2 separate regions of the Homo sapiens genome follow, and region 1 is linked to region 2. The links come from fine-mapping of genetic effects on gene expression. A gene starts in region 2. The other region holds a variant in brackets. All regions are shown on one strand. Distances are from middle to middle. Region 1 has its middle 6.9 kb from the start of KLC3. Region 2 holds the start of ERCC2 (ERCC excision repair 2, TFIIH core complex helicase subunit).

Region 1 (10,969 bases), 37 kb after region 2:
TATATAAGCTCTGAGGGCAGGGCTGTATATTGTCAGCACTGTTATCTTCAGCAAGAGCTTGATGCAAAGTCGGTGCTCAATAAATTGTGACTGAATGAAGGAATCAAGTCCTAGAATAGTAAGCTGGCCAAAGCTGGGAGGACACGATTCTAATATAACTTGAGGACGGCGCAGTGGCTCACACCTGTAATCCCAGCACTTTGGGAGGCCGAGGGGGCTGGATCACTTGAGGTCAGGAGTTCGAGACCAGCCTGGCCAACATGGTGAAACCCTATCTCTACTAAAAATACAAAATTAGCCGGGTGTGGTAGCGCACGCCTGTAATCCCAGCTACTTGGGAGGCTGAGGCAGGCGAATCGCTTGAACCCCAGAGGCAGAGGTTGCAGTGAGCCGAGATCACACCATTACACTCCTGCCTGGGCAACAAGAGCGAAACTCCATCTCAAAAATAAATAAATGCATACATACATACATGGCTCAATGCGCGCGGTACCCCGGTCACTACACTATGAAATGCTTCCAGCAGAGGGCGCTGCTGGTCCGTGGACCAAACTCCAGACTCGGCACAGCTCCGCGCTCCCTCCGAATTGCAGCCAACGTGCCCTCTACTTCCCTGTTGTCTGAGCCCCAGTGCTGATGCTTCCTCCTCCAGGAAGCCCTTTCTTATTTCCCAGGTTTCCAGGCTCTTGGGCTCCCACATCCAGCCCTGCCAACTCTGGGTCATCAGTGTGGGGAGACAGGTCAGTCCCATATTAGACTATGAGCCCCAAGAAGGGAGGAGGCGGCCAGGGGCCATGTCAGTCTCCACTGTGTCCCCAGTGCCACCTAGCACAGGCCCAACGCAGAGAAGGCATTTGGGAGAATAGGTGCTGATTGAATCATGGAAATAAAAATTCAAACTCATATCCTAACTACTCCAGCATTTTTTTTTTTTTAAGACAGTCTTGCTCTGTTGCCCAGGCTGGAGTGCAGTGGCACGATCTTGGCTCATTGTGTAACCTCCGCTTCCCAGGTTCAAGCGATTCTCCCGCCCCAGCCTCCCAAGCAGCTGGGATTACAGGCACCCACCATCATGCCTTGCTAATTTTTATATTTTTGTAGAAATGGAGTTTCCCATGTTGGCCAGGCTGGTCTTGAACTCTTGACCTCAGGTGATCCACCCACTTCGGCCTCCCAGAGTGCTGGGATTATAGGCGTCAGCCACCATGCCCGGCCTACTCTAGCTTTTTTAAAAGACAGGTGTCACTCTGTCACCCAGGCTGGAGTGCAGTGGCAGTCGTAACTCACTGCAGCCTTGATTTCCCGGGTTTAAGCAATGCTCCCTCCTCAGCCTCCCAAGTCCCAGGTAGCTGGGACTACAAATGCACCACCATACCCAGCTACTTTTTGTTGTTTTTTGTAAAGATGGGGGTCTCCCTATATTGCCCAGGCTGGTTTTGAACTCCTGACCTCAAGCGATCCTCCTGCCTTGGCCTCCCAAAGTCCTGGGATTACAGGCATGAGCCACTGTGCCAAGCTCCAGCTATTTCTTTCTTTCTTCCTTTTTTTAATTAAGACAGCATCTCACTGGGAGTGGTGGCTCATGCCTATAATCCCAGCACTTTGGGAGGCCTAGGAGGGCGGATCACCTGAGATCAGGAGGGCGGATCACCTGAGATCAGGAGGGCGAGACCAGCCTGACCAATATGATGAAACCGTGTCTCTACTAAAATTACAAAAATTAGCCGGGCTTGGTGGCATGGGCCTGTAATTCCAGCTTGTCAGGAGGCTAAGACAGGAGAATCACTTGAACCAGGGAGGCGGAGGTTGCAGTGAGCCAAGATGGCGTCATTGCACTCCAGCCTGGGCAACAAGAGCAAAACTCCATCCCCTAAAAAAAAAAAAAAAAAGACAGTGTCTCTGTTGCCCAGGCTGGAGTGCAATGGCATGATCTCGGCTCACTGAAACCTCCATCTCCCGGGTTCAAATGATTCTCCTGCCTCAGCCTCCAGAGTAGCTGGGATTACAGGTGTGCACCATCACGCCCAGGTAATTTTTATATTTTTAGTATAGACAGGGTTTCGCCATGTTGGCCAGGCTGGTCTCGAACTCCTGACCTCAGGTGATCTACCCGCCTCGGCCTTCCAAAGTGCTAGCTCCAGCTATTTCAACAGCACAGGATCGAGGGGCAGCAGAGCCTTCCCCCTGCCCCCCATTTTTTTGGCCTCACGACGCTGGACATTGGATCTGGATCTGCTACACGCTTACCACAGGCAGTGCAGGGACTGGAGCCAGGCCAGCAGGGACAAATCTCAGCTGGGTCATTTGCTAGCTGTGTGACCCTCTGAGCCAAGAAGTAACCTCTCTGGACCTCAGATTTCTAGTCTGTCAAACGAGACTCACAGGGTACCCTACTTTAAGGCTGTGGTGAGGATTACTGTATAATCCCCCAGAAAAGGCTTAGAACAGGGTAGCACCCGGTAAATACTATGTGTGTTGGGGGAGGGCAGGGGATGGAGCCGGGCGGGGAGCCAGGCAGATCTAGGTTTAAATCCTGGCCCTGCCATTTCTGTTCCATGTAAACCGGGGGAACAATGATCTCTGGCTGAGCCTCTGTCTCCTCGTCTAGTAAAATGGGGATGATCACACTCATCACACAGCATTGAGGTGAGACTTAAATGAGATAAAGATTGAAAGAAGAAGAAAGTGTTAACTAAGGAAAACCTTTCTTGCTTTTGTTGCTGCTGTTGTTGTTTTTGTTTTTTTGAGACGGAGTCATGCTCTTTCTCCCCGGCTGGAGTGCAGTGGCACAATCTCGGCTCACTACAACTTCCGCCTCCCAGGTTCATACAATTCTCCTGCCTCAGCCTCCGGAGTAGCTGGGACTATAGGCACGTACCGCCATGCCCAGCTAATTTTTGTATTTTTAGTAGAGACGGGGTTTCACCGTGTTAGCCAGAATGGTCTTGATCTCCTGACCTCGTGATCTGCCTGCCTCGGCCTCCCAAAGTGCTGGGATTACAGGCGTGAGCCACCACACCTGGCCAGGAAAACCTTCCTTTAGGCCAGCGGTGTTCCAAGTACTTTTGCACAACGCCAACAATGGCTGATGTTTGAGTTCTTACCCCAGACTGGCCCTGTGCCAACTCCTATATACAAATTGTTAATCTTCACACCAGCTGCGATGATTCGCTCCATTCCACAGGTGAAAAAGATGAGGCACAGAGAGGCTGAGTAACTTGTCTTAGGTCACACAGCCAAGGAGTAGCAGAGCCCCAGAATCTTTGTAGCTGACCCCCCAAGGTAGGCACTATTACCAGCCCCACCTAAAAATGAGGAAACTGGCCGGATGTGGTGACTCATACCTGTAATCCCAGGGCTTCAGGAGGATTGCTGGAGCCTAGGAGTTTGAGACCAACTTGGGGAACATAGGATGAACCTATCTCTACAAAAAAAAATTTATTTATTTATTTTTTTTGAGATAGAGTCTTACTCTGTCGCCCAGGCTGGAGTGCAGTGGCGTGATCTTGGCTCACTGTAACCTCCGTGCCCTGGGCTAAAGCAATTCTCCTGCCTCAGCCACCTGAGTAGCTAGGATTACAGGAACCACACCTGGCTAATTTTTTTGTATTTTTAGTAGACATGGGGTTTCACCATGTTGGCCAGGCTGGTCTCAAACTCCTGACCTCAAGTGATCTGCCCACCTCAGCCCCCCAAACTGCTGGGATTATGGGCGTGAGCCACCGGGCCCAGCCTGTTTATTTTTTTGAGATGGAGTCTTGCTCTGTCGCCCAGGCTGGAATGCAGTGGCACGATATCAGCTCACTGCAACCTCCGCCTCCTGGGTTTAAGCAATTCTCCTGCCGCAGCCTCCTGAGTAGCTGGGACTACAGACATGCGCCACCACCCCCGGCTAATTTTTGTGTATTTTTAGTATAGACAGGGTTTCACCATGTTGGTTAGGCTGGTCTCCAACTCCTGACCTTAAATGATCTGCCTGCCTTGGCCTCCCAAAGTGCTGGAATTACAGGCGTCACCCACCTGCCAAAAAAAATTAAAAAAAAAATTAGCCATGTGTGATGTGTCACACGTGGTCTCAGCAACTCAGGAGGCTGAAGCAGGGGGATTGCTTGAGCCCAGGAGTCTGAGCCTGCAGTGAGCTATTATCATACCACTGCACTCCAGCCTGGGTGACAGAGTGACAGCCTGTCTCAAAAAATAAATAAAAAAGGAAACTGAGGCTCAGAGAGGAGAAATTGCTTGCATATCCAACAAATACTCCACCCTATCCCTTAAGGCCTTAGTTTGCCACGTCAGGAAAATGGGTACATAGGATGGGAGCTTTTCTATTTTCACCTTCTGGCCATAATTTTTTAATTTAAAAAATAATGGCCAGGAGTGGTGGCTCACGCCTGTCATCCCAGCACTTTGGGAGGCCAAGGCAGGTGGATCACTTGAGGTCAGGAGTTTGAGACCAGCCCGGCCAACATGGTGAAACCCC[G/A]TCTCTACTAAAAATGCACACAAAGGCCGGGCGCAGTGGCTCACGCCTGTAATCCCAGCACTTTGGGAGGCCGAGGCGGGCGGATCACGAGGTCAGGAGATCGAGACCACGGTGAAACCTCGTCTCTACTAAAAATACAAAAAATTAGCTGGGTGCAGTGGCTGGCGCCTGTAGCCCCAGCTACTCGGGAGGCTGAGGCAGGAGAATGGCATGAACCCAGAAGGCAGAGATTGCAGTGAGCCGAGATCGCGCCACTGCACTCCAGCCTGGGGGACAGAGCAAGACCCCGTCTCAAAAAAAAAAAAAAAAAAAAAAGGCACACAAAAAATTAGCCGGGCATGGTGGCACGTGCTAGTAGTCCCAGCTACTCGGGAGGCTGAGGCAGGAGAATTGCTTGAACCCGGGAGGCAGAGGTTCCAGTGAGCCAAGATAGCACCACTGCCCTCCAGCCTGGGCGAAAGAGTGAGACTCCATCTCAAAAAAAAAAAAAAAAAAAAAAAAAGGGAATGCAGTCAGAAAAAACGTTCATAGACACAGAGAATAAAAGACTACAGAGTGAAAGTAAGCGTTCTCTCTCCCTGATCCCCGGACACCCTTCCCGCAAGCAAACCTGATGACCGTTTCCAATATACTTCCAGAGATATTCCATGAATATGATCGTGTGTGGATGTACGAGTGTGTGGACCCATTTAAGAAAAGCACACCTGATATAATCCTTACCTGTGGAGGACGACAAAATGATGGGCCTTGAACTTTTGGTGTGGCCATGTGACTTGCTTTGGCCAATAGCAGAGGGGCACAAGTGACAGTCGTGTCAGTTCTGAGCTTAGGCCTCAAGAGACCTTGAACATTTCTTTTTGCATCTCAGCATCACCATGAGACGGGCTTCCCCTGAGAGCTTCCTCTCCCCTCAGCCTGCACTCCACAAGGTTCCCATATGAAGCAGAACTTCCCATCTGAGCCCGGCCTGGATTGGCCAACTGTCAGCCAACCCCACATCCATTTTAGAGCTATTGACCAGGCATGGTGGCTCACACCTGTAATCCCAGCACTTTGAGAGGCCAAGGCAGGAGGATTGCTTGAGACCAGGAGTTTGAGACCAGCCTGGGCAATATAGCAAGATCCCCATCTCCACAAAAAAAAAAAAAAGTTAAAATGAGCCAAGTGTGGTGGCGCACACCTGTAGTTGCAGCTGCTTGGGAGATTGAGGTGGGATCCCCAGAGGTCAAGGTTGCAGTGAGCTATGATGGCACCACTGTATTCCAGCTTGGGTGAAAAAGAGTGGGGCAAGAGGTAAGAACCTGTCTCCAAAATAAAATTGTACCAAAATAAAATGTAAAAAACCATGAACCAAAAATAAAATGTAAAAAAATAAAAATAAAAATAAAATGGCCAGGCGCAGTGGCTCACGCCTGTAATCCTGGCACTTTGGGAGACCGAGGTGGGTGGATCACCTGAGGTCAGGAGTTTGAGACCAGCCTGGCCAACATGGTGAAACCCCGTCTCTACTAAAAATACAAAAATTAGCCGGGTGTGGTGGCAGAAACCTGTAATCCCAGCTACTCAGGAGGCTGAGGCTGGAGAATCACTTGAACCGGGGAGGCGGAGGTTGCAGTAAGCCGAGATCACGCCATTGCACTCCGGCCTGGGCAACAAGGGCGAAACTCCCTCTCAAAAAAAAAAAAAAAAAAAAATTAGCTTTTTTTTTTTTCTGATTGCAGCACCACGTGGTGAGGGTCTCTAGTTCACGCTCGCAGCCATGCGGTCCGAGGGCCAGCTGCAATCTGTGCAGGTCTTCGGTGGCAAGAAAACAGCCACAGCTGTGGTGCACTGCAAACACGGCGATGGCCTCATCAAGGTGAATGGGCGGCTCCTGGAGATGATCAAGCTGCGCACACTACGATACAAGCTGCTGGAGCCAGTTCTCTTTCTCGGTCCCGGCAAGGAGCGATTTGCTGGTGTGGACATCCATGTCCATGTGAAGGGGCCTAGATTTATGCTGTCAGTCCATCTCCAGAGCCCTGGTGGCCTAGTACCAGAAATATGCGGATGAGTCTTCCAAGGAGATCAAAGACATCCTCATCCAGTATGACCAGACCCTGCTGGTAGCTGATCCCCGTCGCTCTGAGTCCAAAAAGTTTGGAGGTCCTGGTGCCCGTGCTTGTTACCAAAAATCCTACCAATAAGCCCATCATGACGATCAAAATTCACCTGTATAAGTTTTTGAGAGATTTTAAAATTTCAAGAAAAAAAAATTAGCTGGGTGTGGTGGTACACACCTGTAACCCAGCTACTCCGGAGGCTGAGGAAAGAGAAACGCTTGAACCTGGGAGGTGGAAATTGCAGTGCGCCAAGATCGCACCACTGCACTCCAGCCTGGGCCTCAGAGTGAGTCAAAAAAAGAAAACAAAAAAAAGTTATTAGGCCGGGCGCGGTGGCTCACGCCTGTAATCCCAGCACTTTGGGAAGCTGAGGCGGGCGGATCACGAGGTCAGGGGATGGAGACCATCCTGGCTAATGCAGTGAAACCCCGTCTCTACTAAAAATACAAAAAATTAGCCGGGCGTGGTGGCGGGCGCCCGTAGTCCCAGCTACTCGGGAGGCTGAGGCAGGAGAATGGCGTGAACCCACGAGGCGGAGCTTGCAGTGAGCCGAGATTGCGCCACTGCACTCCAGCCTGGGTGACAGAGCGAGACTCCGTCTCAAAAGCAAACAAACAAACAAAAAGTTATTGCATTTTGGGGTAGTCTGTTTCAATAAAAAGAAAAAGGAAAAAAAGAACGAAGCAACAGAAGACAAAGCAGAGATTTATCCAAGACAATTCACAGAGTGGGAGCGGGCTGGAGCACCTCCCCAATTAGGGTTGTCTTTGTTTTTTTTTTGAGACGTAGTCTCGCTCTGTTGACCAGGCTGGAGTGCAGTGACATGATCTCAGCTCACTGCAACCTCTACCTCCCGCGTTCAAGCGATTCTCCTACCTCAGCCTCCTGAGTAGCTGGGACTCCTAGCACGAGCCACCACGGATGCGCCACCACACCCGGCTAATTATTGTACTTTTAGTAGAGACGGGATTTCACCATGTTGGCCAGGCTGGTCCGAAATTCCTGATCTTGAGTGATTTGGCCGCCTTGACCTCCCAAAGTGCTGGGATTACAGGCGAACCACCGCGCCAGGCCTGCCAGTTAGGGTTTTTATTAAGCTAAAAAGGACCCGGCAACACCCCTAGGTGCCCTTCAGAGGCCTCCAATTGGTTACACTCTATGAAGGGTTGGCTCATGACCAATCAGAGCCCAAGTGGAGACCTGGCTCGCAGTCAATCAGAGGCTGGAGTGGCTTATTATCATGGGAGGGAGAATAGAGCCTGTATGCACCTGTGGCTCTCCTGCCTCCATGAACTGACTGCACCTGCTATTCTGTTGCTTATGCAAACTGGCTGTACCTGATGAACCCCCAGTTACCCTAATTCCCTATTCTCTGCCACACCAGCGCTTTGGGAGGCTAAGCCTGGAGCCCTGGAATTGGAGGCTGCAGGCTCACTTGAGGCTGAGAGTTCAAGACCAGCCTGGGCAACATAGCAAGACCCACCCCATCTGTACAAAAAGAAAAAAAGAAAGAAAAAAAGGAATCCGAAGAGAAAAAAAGTTGAGCAAAAGAAATTAGACAAATGGGCCGGGCGCGGTCACTCCTGCCTATAATCCCAGCACTTTTCAGGCTGAGGTGGGCAGATCACAAGGTCAGCAGTTCAAGACCAGCCTGACCAACATGGTGAAACCCCGTCTCTACTAAAAATACAAAAATTAGCCAGGCGTGGTGGCACGTGTCTGTAATCCCAGCTACTCAGGCGGCTGAGGCAGGAGAATCGCTTGAACCCAGGAGGCAGAGGGTGGCCCGGCCTTCTTCTTTTCTTTGAGATGGAATTTCACTGTTGTTGCCCAGACTGGAGTACAGTGGCACTATATCGGCTCACTGCAACCTCTATCTCCCGGGTTCAAGAGATTCTCCTGCCTCAGCCTCCCAAGTAGCTGGGATTACTGGTATGCATCACCACGCCTGGCTAATTTTTTGTATTTTTAGTAGAGACGGGGTTTCACCATGTTGGTCAAGCTGGTCTCGAACTCCTGACCTCAAGTGATCCACCCACCTAGGCCTCCCACTGCGCTCAGCGAGAACATTTTCTTGGAGGAGAGAGAGACATTCACTGGGAGGGGACATGAGAGAGTTTCTTTGGGAGCTGGTAGTAGTCTCTGTTTAGATCCTGGTGATGCTTATTCACATGTACACGAATATAAAAGTTCATTGATTTTAAGATTAGGGCACTTCACCAAATAGAAATTATGCCTCAATAGGCCGGGCATGGTGGCTCACACCTGTAATCCCAGCACTTTGGGAGGCCTGGGTGGGCAGATCACGAGGTCAGGAGTTCGACCAGCCTGGCCAACATGGTGAAACCCCGTTTCTACTAAAGATACAAAAAATGAGCCAGGTGTGGTGGCGCGCACCTGTAGTCCCAGCTACTCTGAAGGCTGAAGCAGGAGAATCGCTTGAACCCGGGAGGCAGAGGTTGCAGTGAGCCGAGATCACGCCATTGCACTCCAGCCTGGGTGACAGGGTGAGACTCCGTCTCAAAAAAAAAAAAGGAGGGAGGGAGGAAGAGAGGAAGAGAGGGAGGAAGGAAGGAAGGAAGGAAGGAAGGAAGGAAGGAAGGAAGGAAAGAAAATAAATTATGCCTCAATAAAAACAGTAAATTTGGCCGGGCGCAGTGGCTCACGCCTGTAATCCCAGTACTTTGGGAGGCCGAGGCAGGAGGATCAAGAAGTCAGGAGTTTGAGACCAGCCTGGCCAACGTGGTGAAATCCTGTCTCTACTAATAATACAAAAATTAGCCAGGCATGGTGGCACATGCCTATAATCCCAGCTACTCGGGAGGCTGAGGCAGGAGAATCGCTTGAACCTGGGAGGCAGAGGTTGCGGTGAGCCGAGATCCGCCATTGCACTCCAGCCTGGGCAACAAGAGCGAAACTCGATCTCAAAAAAAAAAAAAAAAAAAAAAGAGTAAATTTGAGAAAATAAAATATGAATAAGTGTGAACATCCATACACTCCAAATATAACAGTTCCAATAAAAATACATTTGAAATGATAATAGAATATAAAAACAGGCCAGGTATGGGCCGGGCCGGTGGCTCACGCCTGTAATCCAAGCACTTTGCGAGGCTGAGGCAGGTGGATCACGAGGTCAGGAGATCAAGACCATCCAGGCTAACACAGTGAAACGCTGTCTCTACGAAAAACACACAAAAAATTTAGCTGGATGTGGTGGCAGGCACCTGCAGTCCCAGCTACTCAGGAGGCTGAGGCAGGAGAATGGTGTGAACCCGGGAGGCAGAGCTTGCAGTGAGCCGAGATCACACCACTGCACTCCAGCCTGGGCAACAGAGCGAGACTCCGTCTCAAAAAAAAAAAAAAAAAACACGCCAGGTATGGTGGCTTACACCTGCAATCCCAGCACTTTGTGAGGCTGAGGCAGGAGGATTGCTTGAGGTCAGGAGTTCAAGACCAGGCTGGGCAACATAGCAAGACTGTGTCTTTACAAAAGATACAAAAATTAGCTGGGCATGGTGGCACACATCTGTGATCCCAGCTACTGAGGAGGCTGAGGTGGGAGGATCGCTGAGCTCAGGAGATGGAGGCTGCAATGAGCCAAGATCATACCACTGCATTCCAGCCTGGGAGACAGTGAGATCCTGTCTCTAAACAAACAAACAACATCAAGAAAAAAACAAAACAAAACAAAAAACAACCTGGGATAAACCTAAAGCAGCACCTAGAGGGAAATGTATAGCTAATTTGATAAAATTGATTGATCTGGGGCTGGGTGCAGTGGCTCATGCCTGTAATCCCAGCACTTTGGGAGGCTGAGACGGGCGGATCACTTGAGGTCAGGAGTTGAAGACTAGCCTGGCCAACATGGTGAAACCCCATCTCTATTAAAAATACAAAAATTAGGCCAGGCGCAGTGGCTCCTGCCTGTAATCCTAGCACTTTGGGATGCCAAGGAGGGCAGATCATTTGAGGTCAGGAGTTGGAAACCAGCCTGGCCAACATGGTGAAACCCTGTCTCTACTAAAAATACAAAAATTAGCCAAGGCTGGTGGATGGCAGCTGGAATCCCAGCCACTCAGGAGGCTGAGGCAGGATAACGGCTTGAACCCGGAAAGCAGAGGTTGCAGTGAGCCGAGATCGAATCAGTGCACTCCAGCCTGGGTGACAGAGCGAGACTCCCTCTCAAAGAAAAAAAAAAAGATTGATTGATTTGGAGAGACTGGGGCAGGACAAGTTGGGAGCCATGAAAGACGTTATTTTATTCACCACCCACTACCCTATGGACCAGACCCTGGTCAGCTGATTATGGGGCTGCAGGCTGGCCTGGCTCTCCAGGAAGAGAAAGGAGGAATGGGCAGGGTCTCAACTCCCCAGCCCTGGGTCTGGC
Region 2 (10,969 bases):
TGATCCTCCCGCCTCAGCCTCCCAAGTAGCTGGGACTATAGGCACCACATCCCACTAATCTCTCTCTTTTTTTTTTTTTAATTTTCCGTAGAGACAGGATCTCACCGTGTTGCCGAGGCTGGCCTTGAATTCCTGGGCTCAAGTGATCCTCCTGCCTTGGCCTCCCAAAGTGCTGGGAATATAGACATGATTCACTGCACCCAACCAACATTGGATTGATATTCTCTTAAATTCTCCAACTTTTTCTCCCATTAAGGGACATAGTGCTGTTTATTAGATGGGTAATATCATAGATAATTCGACTTGGACCATGGAGTTCATTCAAATTGTGTATCTTGACAATTTTAGTATTGGCTGATGTAACATGACAATCTAGGAGAGTATTTCCTTGGTATTTAATTCATGTTCTGCTTGGTTTAGCAATTTTATAAACCAGCCTAGGCCTTGCACAGTGGCTCATGCCTGTAATCCCAGCGCTTTGGGAGGCCAAGGCAGGTGGATCACCTGAGGTCAGGAGTTCGAGACCAGCCTGGCCAACATGGTGAAACCCCGTCTCTACTAAAAATAAAAAAATAAAAAAAAAAATAGCCGAGCATGGTGGTGGGTGCCTGTAATCCCAGCTCCTGGGGAGGCTGAGGCAGGAGAATCACTTGAAACCGGGAGGCGGAGGTTGTGGTGAGCCAAGATCGTGCCACTGCAATCCAGCTTGGGCAACAAGAGTGAAAATCCATCTCAAAAATAATAAAATAAAATAAAATAAAATATAAACCAGTCAGTTTCTTCATTAGAGTTCTGGAAATTCTTACCCAGTCCAAACAATATGATCCTAAAATTTATCAGAAACCTATACTCAGGCTGGGTACAGTGGCTCACGCTGGTAATCCCAGCACTTTGGGAGGCCATGGCGGGCAGATCCCTTAAGCCCAGGAGTTCAAGACCAGCCTGGGCAACGTGGCGGAACCATGTCTCTACTAAAAATACAAAAAATTAGCTAGGCACGGTGGTGCACACCTACAGTCCCAGCTACTCAGGAGGCTGAGGTGGCAGGATCACTTAAGCCTGGGAAGTTGAGGCTGCACTGAGCCATGTTCTCACCACTGCACTTCAGCTGGAGCAACAGAAGTGAGACCCTGTCTCAAAAAAAAAAAAAAAAAAAAAAGAGAGAGAAAAGAAACTTTTATGCAACAGTGCTTGTCAGGGTCCTTCCATCCTTTCTCTCTTTCTCCCTTTCTCTCTCTCTCTCTGTCTCTTTCTCTCTTTCTCTCTTTCCTTCTTTCTTCCTTTCTGAGACGGAGTCTGTTGCCCAGGATGGAGAGCAATGGCGCGATCTTGGCTTACTGCAACCTCTACCTCCCAGGTTCAAGCCATTCTCCAGCCTCAGCCTCCCAAGTAGCTGGGACTACAGACATGTGTCACCACGCCCGGCTAATTTTTGTATTTTTAGTAGAGATGAGGTTTCACCATGTTGGCCAGGCTGGTCTCCAACTCCTGACCTCAAGTGATCCGCCCGCCTCGGCCTCACAAAGTGCTGGGATTATAGGCGTGAGCCATCACTCCTGCCATGGAGCTGACTTTTGTTTTTTTCGAGACAGAGTTTCACTCTTGTTGCCCAGGCTGGAGTGCAATGGCGCGATCTCGGCTCAGCGTTAACCTCTGCCTCCCAGGTTCAAGCGATTCTCCTGCTTCAGCCTTCTGAGTAGTTGGGATTACAGGCATGCGACACCACACCCAGCTAATTTTTGCATTTTTAATAGAGATGAGGTTTCACCGTGTTGGTCAGGCTGGTCTGGAACTCCTGACCTCACATGATCCACCTGTTCCAGCCTCCCAAAGTGCTGGGATTACAGGCGTGAGCCCCCGCGCCCAGCCAGGAGCTTTCTAAACAAAATAAATAAGTAAAATATTCAGCATGTCACATGGTTAAATGAGCTCTCAAGAACAATAAAGCAGGGAAAGGGGATATAGTGTGTGTGTGTGTGTGTGTGTGCGTGCGTGCGTGTGTGTGTGTGCGTGCGTGCGTGCGTGTGTGTGTGTGTCTAGGAGGTAGATTTAATTTGGTGGTCAGGAAGCCCTCATTGAGAAGGAGACTTTTTTTTTTTTGAGACAGAGTCTTGCTTTGTCACCCAGGCTGGAGTACAGTGGCATGATCTTGGCTCACTGCAGCCTCTGCCTCCCGGGTTCCAGCAATTCTCCTGCCTCAGCCTCCCGGGTAGCTAGGATTACTGGTATGTGCTACCATGCTTTGCCAATTTTTGTATTTTTAGTAGAGACGGGATTTCACCATCTTGGCCAGGCTGGTCTCGAACTCCTGATCTCAGGTGATCTGCCCACCTCAGCCTCCCAAAGTGGTAGGATTACAGGTGTGAGCCACCATGCCGGGCCGAGAAGTTGACAATTGAGCAAAGAGCTGAGGGAGGTGAGTGTGTCAGCCACATGGCTATCAGGGGAAACAGCATTCCAGGCAGACAAAATAGCTGGTGCAAAGGCCCTGAGATGGGATGTGCTTGTTATGTTTTAGAGACAGCAAGGAGACCAGCATAGCTGAAACAAAATGAGCTGGGGGAGAGAGAGGAGGAGATCAGAGCAGTAAGGTGGGTTGGTATGGGGATGATGAGCAGTAAGCTAGTTACAGAGGACTCTGTAGGTGACAGTAAAGATTTTGGATCTGGGCTGGATGCAGAGGCTCACGCTTGTAATCCCAGTACTTTGGGAGGCTGAGGGAACAGGATGGCTTGAGCCCAATACCAGCCTGGGCAACATAGCGAGACCCTGTCAATAACAAAATATATTTTCTTCCTGTAGGAGATAGAAAAGTAAACATAAAAAAATTTATGTAAATAAATTAAGCCGGGCACAGTGGCTCACGTCTGTAATCCCACCACTTTGGGAGGCTGAGGTGGGAGAATTGCTTGAGCTCAGGAGTTCAACCAGCCTGGACAACATAGTGAGATACCCTCGTCTCTACAAAAAATTAAAAAAAATTAACCAGGCGTGGTGTCGTGTACCCGCAGTCCCAGCTACTCAGGAGGCTGAGGTGGGAGGATCACTTGAGCCCTGGAGGTCAAGGTGGCAATGAGCCAAATTCACACCACCATACTCCAGGCTGGGACAGAGCAAGACTCTGTCTCCAAAAATACAGCCGGGAAGGGTGGCTCACACCTGTAATCCCAGCACTTTGGGAGGCTGAAGTGGGTGGATCTTTTGAGGTCAGGAGTTTGAGGCCAGCCTGGCCAACATAGTGAAACCCCGTTTCTACTAAAAGTATAAAAATTAGCTGGGCAGTAGTGGTGCGCACCTGTAATCCCAGCTACTAGGGAGGCTGAGGCCAGAGAATTGCTTGAGCCTGGGTGGCAGAGGTTGCGGTGCGCTGAGATTGTGCCACTGTACTCCAGTCTGGGCGAAAGAGTGAGACCTTGTCTCAAAAATAAATAAATTAAGAATTAATTAATTTAAAAAAGAGATTTCGATCTGCCCCTGCCTTCCCCTCCAGCTGCCCTTTCTCTGCTCCCTGTGCTCAACTCAGAGCTCCACCCCCACAGGCTTCCTTTCAGCACTCACAGGCCTCAGCTTTCTTCTGGCCTAGAGCTTTTGTGTATGATGGTCTCTCTCCCTGGAACACCTTTCTCACTTCTCTCATCCATCCCCTCTTGCTGGTTGATCTCTTCTAATTATTTTCTGGCTCTACTCAAACCTCGCTTCTTCCACGAAGCCTTCTCTGATCACTTGGCCAACACTCACACCCCACAGTTGACAGTAGACATCCTGTCATAATAAGTCTTTTTTTTTTTTCTTTTTCTGGGACGGAGTCTTGCTCTGTCACGCAGGCTGGAGTGCAGTGGCGTGATCTTGGCTCACTTCTGCCTCCTGGGTTCAAGCAATTCTCCTGCTTTAGCCTCCCGAGTAGATGGGATTACAGATGCATGCCACTATGCCTGGCTTTTTTTTTTTTTTTTTTTTTTTTAGTAGAGATAGGGTTTCACCATGTTGACCAGGCTGGTCTTGAACTCCTGACCTCGTGATCCATCTGCCTTGGCCTCCCAAAGTGCTGGGATTACAGGCATGAGCCACTGCACCCAGCCCATAATCAATCTTTATGGTGACTTGAAGTTTTCCTTCACAGCACTTTTGTACTTGTGATTATACACGTGCGCACACACACACACACACACACACACACACACATTTGAGATAGGTTTTCACTCCTGTTGCCCAGGCTGGAGTGCAGTGGCACAATCACTGCCCATTGCAACCTCTGCCTCCCAGGCCCAGGTGATTCTCCCACCTCAGCCTCCTGAGTATCTGGGACTACAGGTGCACGCCACCACGCCCAGCTAATTTTTGCATTTTTTGTAGAGACGGGTTTTCACCATGTTGCCCAGGCTGGTCTCTAGCTCCTGAGCTCAAGCAATGTACTCGCCTTGGCCTTCCAAAGTGTTGGAACCACAGGCACGAGCCACCACTCCAGGCTGTAATCATATATTCATTTGTATATTTAATATCTGTTCTTTGAGGCCAGGCCTGGTGCCTCACCCCTGTAATCCCAACAATTTGAAAGGCTGAGGGGAGAGGATCACTTGAACCTGCGAGTTTAACCAGCCTGGGCAACGTGGTGAGACCTCGTCTCTAAAAAAATTTAAAAAATAAAACTTAGCTGGGCTTGGTGGTGCACACCTGTGGTCCCAGCTACTCTGGAAGCTGAGGTGGGAGGATCGCTTGAGCCCAAGAGGTGGAGGCTGCAGTGAGCTGTGACTGTGCCACTGCACTCCAGCCTTGGCGACAGAGAAAGACCCTGTCTCAAGGAAAAAAATCTGTTCTTTGAGGGCAGGTGCTGAGGCTGTCATGGTCACCTTTCTGTTCCCAGGGGCCAGCACAGGATCAGACACATGGTAGATGCCACATAGCTATTTGTTGAAGAAACAAACAAAAGCTAGCATTTATGTTTTATTTATTAGTTATTATTATTAATATTTGAAATGGAGTTTCGCTTTTGTTGCCCAGGCTAGAGTGCGACGGCGCCATCTCTGCTCACTGCAACCTCTGCCTCCCAGGTTCAAGCAATTCTCCTGCTTCAGCCTCCCGAGTAGCTGGGATTACAAGCATTTGCCAGCACGCCCGGCTAATTTTGTATCTTTAGTAGAGACAGGTTTTCTCCATGTTGGTCAGGCTGGTCTTGAACTCCCGACCTCAGGTGATCCACCTGCCTCAGCCTCCCAAAGTGCTGGGATTACAGGCTTGAGCCACCGCGCCCGGCCTGCAAAGCCATTTCTAACTCTTGGGCCCAGAAAGGATCACCAATTTCCCTGTCATTCTCCGTTAGACTATTCGCTACTGAGACGATTTTTTTTTTTTTTTGAGACGAGGTGGAGGGGCGGGGGTTCTCGCTATCTTGCTCAAGCTGATCTCGAACTCCTGGGTTCGATCAATACTCAGACAATCTTGGCAGGCGCAGGAGGACCAAATTCTAGTGAATGAGATCGAGTCTCTCGGCTCTTTCCCTTCCATGTTTTCTTTTTGATTGGCCCTCGACGATCCTCAGTGACGCCTCCCGCACCGCCTCACCCGAGAGTCAGCCGCCCTCGCTTTTCCGTGCGCACGCGCAGTATCCCGATTGGCTCTGCCCTAGCGGATTGACGGGCAGGTTAGCCAATGGTCTCGTAATATAGGTGGAGCGAGCCCTCGAGGATGTCCACGACCCGGCCTCTCGCTGAATATTCATGAGGGAGGCGGGTCGACCCCGCTGCACAGTCCGGCCGGCGCCATGAAGTGAGAAGGGGGCTGGGGGTCGCGCTCGCTAGCGGGCGCGGGGGGTCTTGAAGATGGGGTCATCGGTGGGCGCGCCTGGGTCCCCAAGGGGGCGAGGGGAGGGTGAAGGGGTGGGACGGGGGCAGCCGCAGGGAGCAGCAGTGATAGCGAGGAGACACTGAGGGGGCCCCGAGGCTCCTGAGGACCTGAGGGTTACCGGGGGCGCCGGGCCCGTCACCCTTCTCTGGGCTCGACGACCGGGCACTGTGGAGGCGGGAGAGGGGCTGAGGGGACGGGAACTGACCCAGCAGCCCCTGCCGCCAGGCTCAACGTGGACGGGCTCCTGGTCTACTTCCCGTACGACTACATCTACCCCGAGCAGTTCTCCTACATGCGGGAGCTCAAACGCACGCTGGACGCCAAGGTGGGTGGCCGGTGGGCCCGACCCGCCCACTCGACCGGTGGGGCTGCCACGCCTGGGCCTAAGACAGATTGCAGGACGTCTGGATTTTAGAAGTCCGAGGTCCCTGGGAATCCAGGACCCCATAATCTTCCGTTATCTAAAACAATAATGGTGAATAGGCTGGGCGCGGTGGCTCGCGCCTGTAATCCCAGAGCTTTGGGAGGACGAGGCGGGCGGATCACTTGAGGTCAGGAGTTGGAGACCAGCCTGGCCAACACGGTGAAACCCCGTCTGTACTAAAAATACAAAAATTAGCCAGGTGTGGTGGCGGGCGCCTGTAATCCCACCTACTCGGGAGGCTGAGGCAGGAGGATCGCTTGAGGCCAGGAGTTGGAGGCTGCAGTGAGCCATGATTGTGCCACTGCATTCCAGCCTGGGCAATAGTGACACTTGTCTCTTAAAAAAGAAGGGAGAAAAGTTCACTATATATCAGCTACTGTGCCAAATATTTAACCTGCAATTTCTCACAATCCTCATAGTCATGTTATGAGGAAGGTTTTATTATTAGGCCCATTTTATTTTATTTATTTATTTTTGAGATTGAATTACAGGTGCGCGCCACCACATCTGGCTAATTTTTTGTATTTTTAGTAGAGACGGGGTTTCACCTTGTTGGCCCAGCTGGTCTTGAACTTCTGACCTCAGGTGGTTCACCTGCCTCAGCCTCCCAAAGTGCTGGGATTACAGGTGTGAGCCACCACGCCTGGCTTTAGGCTCATTTTAGAGATAGGGATACTGAGGTCTGGGGAGGTGAAGGTACTTGCCTAAGACCACTCAACAAGGAGGAGGCAGAAGTGAGGTTCAAACCCACTGCCCAATCTTAACTGCTGCTGTGTTATCCTGCTGTTCTGAGTTGGTGGCATTGGGGGTCGGGGAGAGTCCCCAGAGTTTGTGTGCCCAAGGTTCTGAGACCCTGTGTGTTGCCCCTCTGGTCCCCAACATGCAGGGTCATGGAGTCCTGGAGATGCCCTCAGGCACCGGGAAGACAGTATCCCTGTTGGCCCTGATCATGGCATACCAGAGAGTGAGTGATGCGCTGAACCCGTAAAGGCAGACAAAGGAAGGGGCGGGACAGGGACTGAGTCCGCTTGTTATCGGCAGGCATATCCGCTGGAGGTGACCAAACTCATCTACTGCTCAAGAACTGTGCCAGAGATTGAGAAGGTAAGCTGGGACTCATCCTGGTGCTCCAGCCCCACTGTTCCCTAGGCCCTATTGGTCCCCCTGGCGGTGGCCGTCACCAGCTTTCGGGGGTGTTTGGGAAGCTGGGGAAGAGACTGGGACCTGGCAGGGCAGGGGTTTGTGCCTCCAATGAGCACAAGCTCCCCCTGCCCCCCAACTTTGGAGTAGGTGATTGAAGAGCTTCGAAAGTTGCTCAACTTCTATGAGAAGCAGGAGGGCGAGAAGCTGCCGTTTCTGGGACTGGCTCTGAGCTCCCGCAAAAACTTGTGTATTCACCCTGAGGTGAGCACCTGTTCCTTCTCCTTGCCCTTAGCCCAGAGGTAGAGAAAACTCTTTCGTCCAACCACAAGTCCTGGATCCCCAGGCCATATCTCTTGCAAAGGCATGCAGTGGCTACACACAGAATTCCCGTCTCAGTGGTCAAATTCTCATTCATCGTGGCCCAGGCAAGCACACTTCCTCCAGGGAGTCTTCAAATTCTACCCAGGCCTAGGAGAGGTTAAAAAGGCAGCTCTTAGAGTCTCTGGCAAGCCTGGTTTCCTGGCTCTGAAACTTACTAGCCCAGTATTTATGGAGAGGCATTTTCTGCCACCTGGGCCTCAGTCTTCCTTTCTGTAAAATGGGGATAATTATGTACCTGCTTCATAAGGTTGCTGATGATAAAATTGGGTGAAATGTTGCAGCCGATGCCCTTAGCATGTACAAAGAGCTAAAAGAATGTTAGAAATTCTCATGATAGGCCAGGTGCAGTGGTTCACGCTTGTAGTCCCAGCACTTTGGGAGTCTGAGGTGGGCAGATCATTTGAGGTCAGGAGTTCGAGACCATCCTGGCCAACACGGCGAAACCCCATTTCTACTAAAAATACAAAAATTAGCCGGGGGTGGTGGTGTACACGTCGGTAATGCCAATCGCTTGTACCCAGGAGGCAGAGGTTGCAGTGAGCTGAGGTCATGCCACTGCATTCCAGCCTGGGTGACAGAGTGAGACTCTGTCTTAAAAAAAAAAAAAAAGAAATTGTCATGATATTTATATGCATAATGATATATGACAAATACAATATTAGTTATCATTAAATTATGCTATAAAATCATTGTACTTGGCTGGGCATGGTGACTCACGACTATAATCCCAGCACTTTGGGAGGCCGAGGCGGGTGGACACCTGAGGTCGGGAGTTTGAGACCAGCCTGGCCAATATGGAGAAACCCCGTCTCTACTGAAAAAAAATTGAAAAATTAGCTGGGCACATGCCTGTAATCCCAGCTACTTGGGAGGCTGAGACAGGAGAATTGCTCGAACTCCCGAGGGGGAGGTTGCAGTGAGCCGAGATCGCGCCACTGCACTCCAGCCTGGGCAACAAGAGTGAAACTCCGTCTCAAAAAAAAAAAAAAATTGTACTCACTGTGTGCCAGGCACTGTTCTGAATACTTTACATGTGGTAACCCACAGAATGTATATATGTGTATATATTATACTTACATATATATGTGTGTGTATATATGTTTTTATATGTGTGTGTGTGTGTGTGTGTGTGTGTGTGTGTATATATATATATATTTTTGTTTTGTTTTGTTTTTGAGACGGAGTCTCACTCTGTCACCCAGCCTGGAGTGCAGGGGAGTGATCTTGGCTTACTACAAGCTCCGCCTCCCGGGTTCAAGCAATTCTCCTGCCTCAGCCTCCTGAGTAGCTAGGATTACAGGTGCCCCACTACACCCGGCTAATTTGTGTGTTTTTAGTAGAGACGGTGTTTCACCATGTTGGTTAGGCTGGTCTCTAACTCCCGACCTTGTGATCCTCCCGCCTCAGCCTCCCAAAGTGCTGGGATTACAGGCATGAGCCATCGTGCCCAGCCTTATTTATTATTATTATTTTTGAAATGGAGTTTCACTCTTGTTGCCCAGGCTGGAGTGCAGTGGCGTGATCTCGGTTCACCACAACCTCCACCTCCGAGGTTCAAGTGATTCTTCTGCCTCAGCTTCCTGAGTAGCTGGGATTACAGGCACCCACCACCACGCCCTGCTAGTTTTTTGTATTTTTAGTAGAGATGGGGTTTCATCATGTTGGCCGGGCTGGTCTCAAACTCCCACACTGGGCCCACAGACTATATATTATATCACATTATTTGTAAGAATATGTGAGAAATAATACATCTAGTGGATGACAAAGAGCACAGGCCTCGGTGACTGATGAAAGGGGAAATGGAGAAGGAAGGGCTGGCTGCCTTGGAGCTTTCCTTTTGGCGTAGGAAAAGGATTTGTTCTTCAGAAAAAGCCTTAGGCTGTGATGGTGCCTTAGAGGGTACAGAGCAGGTCAGGGGTAAGGGGAGTCCCAGACTGTGTGGAACCTCCTTTGATTCTTAGGCCCTGCCAAGGTTCCATGCGTTTTGGCATTTCCAAGGATGAAGTAGTTATCTTCAACCTATATGCTAAAGATTTTTCAGGCTTATTGTTTTAAAATATTAGTTTTGGGCTGGGCACGGTGGCTCACACCTATAATCCCAGCACTTTGGGAGGCCGAGGCGGGTGGATCACCTGAGATCAGGAGTTCGAGACCAGCTTGATCAACATGGAGAAACCCTGTCTCTACTAAAAAGACAAAATTAGCCGGGTGTGGTGGCACATGTCTGTAATCCCAGCTACTCGGGAGGCTGAGACAGGAGAATCGCTTGAACCTGGGAGGCGGAGGTTGTGGTGAGCCAAGATCGTGCCATTGCACTCCAGCCTGGGCAACAGAGCAAGACTCCGTCTCAAAAAATAAAATATTAGTTTTGGCTGGCTGGGCGCAGTGGCTCAGCCTGTAATCCCAGCACTTTGGGAGGCTGAGGTGGGAGGATTGCTTGAGACCAGGAGTTTGAGACCAGCCTGGGCAACATAGCAAGACCTCATCTCAACTAAGAAGACAAAAATTAGCCGGGCATGGTGGTGCACACCTGTGGCCGCAGCTACTCGGGAGGCTGAGTGGGGGAAGGATCACTTGAGCCTGGGAGGTCAAGGATGTAGTGAGCCGTGATTGGGCCACTGCATTCCAGCCTGAGTAGCAGAGGGACTTGTCTCCAAAAATATGTATGTATAACTTGTAGTTGTAAGAATGTAACAATTTTGCTACTCTTTTTTTTTTTGAGAGGGAGTCTGGCTCCGTGGCCCAGGGTGGAGTACAGTGGCATGATCTCGGCTCACTGCAACCTCTGCCTTCTGGGTTCAAGGGATTCTCCTGCCTCAGCCTCCCGAGTAGCTGGGATTCCAGGTGTGCACCACCACACCTGGCTCATTTTTGTATTTTTATTTTTACTTATTTTTTTGAGATGGTGTCTCACTCTGTCGCCCAGGCTGGAGTGCTATGGCACGATCTCTGCTCACTGCAACCTCCACCTCCCGGATACAAGCGATTCTCCTGCCTCAGCCTCCCGAGTAACTGGGATTACAGGCATGTGCCACCACGCCTGGCTAATGTATTTTTAGTGGAGACAGGGTTTCACCATGTTGGCCAGGCTGGTCTCGAACTCCTGACCTCGTGATCTGCCCACCTCAGCCTCACAAAGTGCTGGGATTACAGGCGTGAGCCACCGCGCCCAGCCCAATT

Evidence for each region.
Region 1: its variant is fine-mapped to the expression of ERCC2 in whole blood (INTERVAL, PIP above 0.99).

Annotation. Positions count from the first base shown.
Region 1 is chr19:45,328,395-45,339,363 of GRCh38, reverse strand. It overlaps the pseudogene RPS16P9. Among named protein-coding and RNA genes, the nearest start is that of KLC3, 6.9 kb to the left of the region's middle. The variant G/A (reference allele first, on the strand shown) is at 4,481.
Region 2 is chr19:45,365,330-45,376,298 of GRCh38, reverse strand. It overlaps ERCC2 (ERCC excision repair 2, TFIIH core complex helicase subunit), which reads left to right and starts at 5,726. Exons shown (of 23, transcript NM_000400.4): 1 at 5,726-5,763; 2 at 6,067-6,166; 3 at 7,152-7,229; 4 at 7,307-7,369; 5 at 7,556-7,669. The coding sequence starts at 5,759. RefSeq lists enhancers at 1-120, 121-958, 5,433-5,512, 6,131-6,972.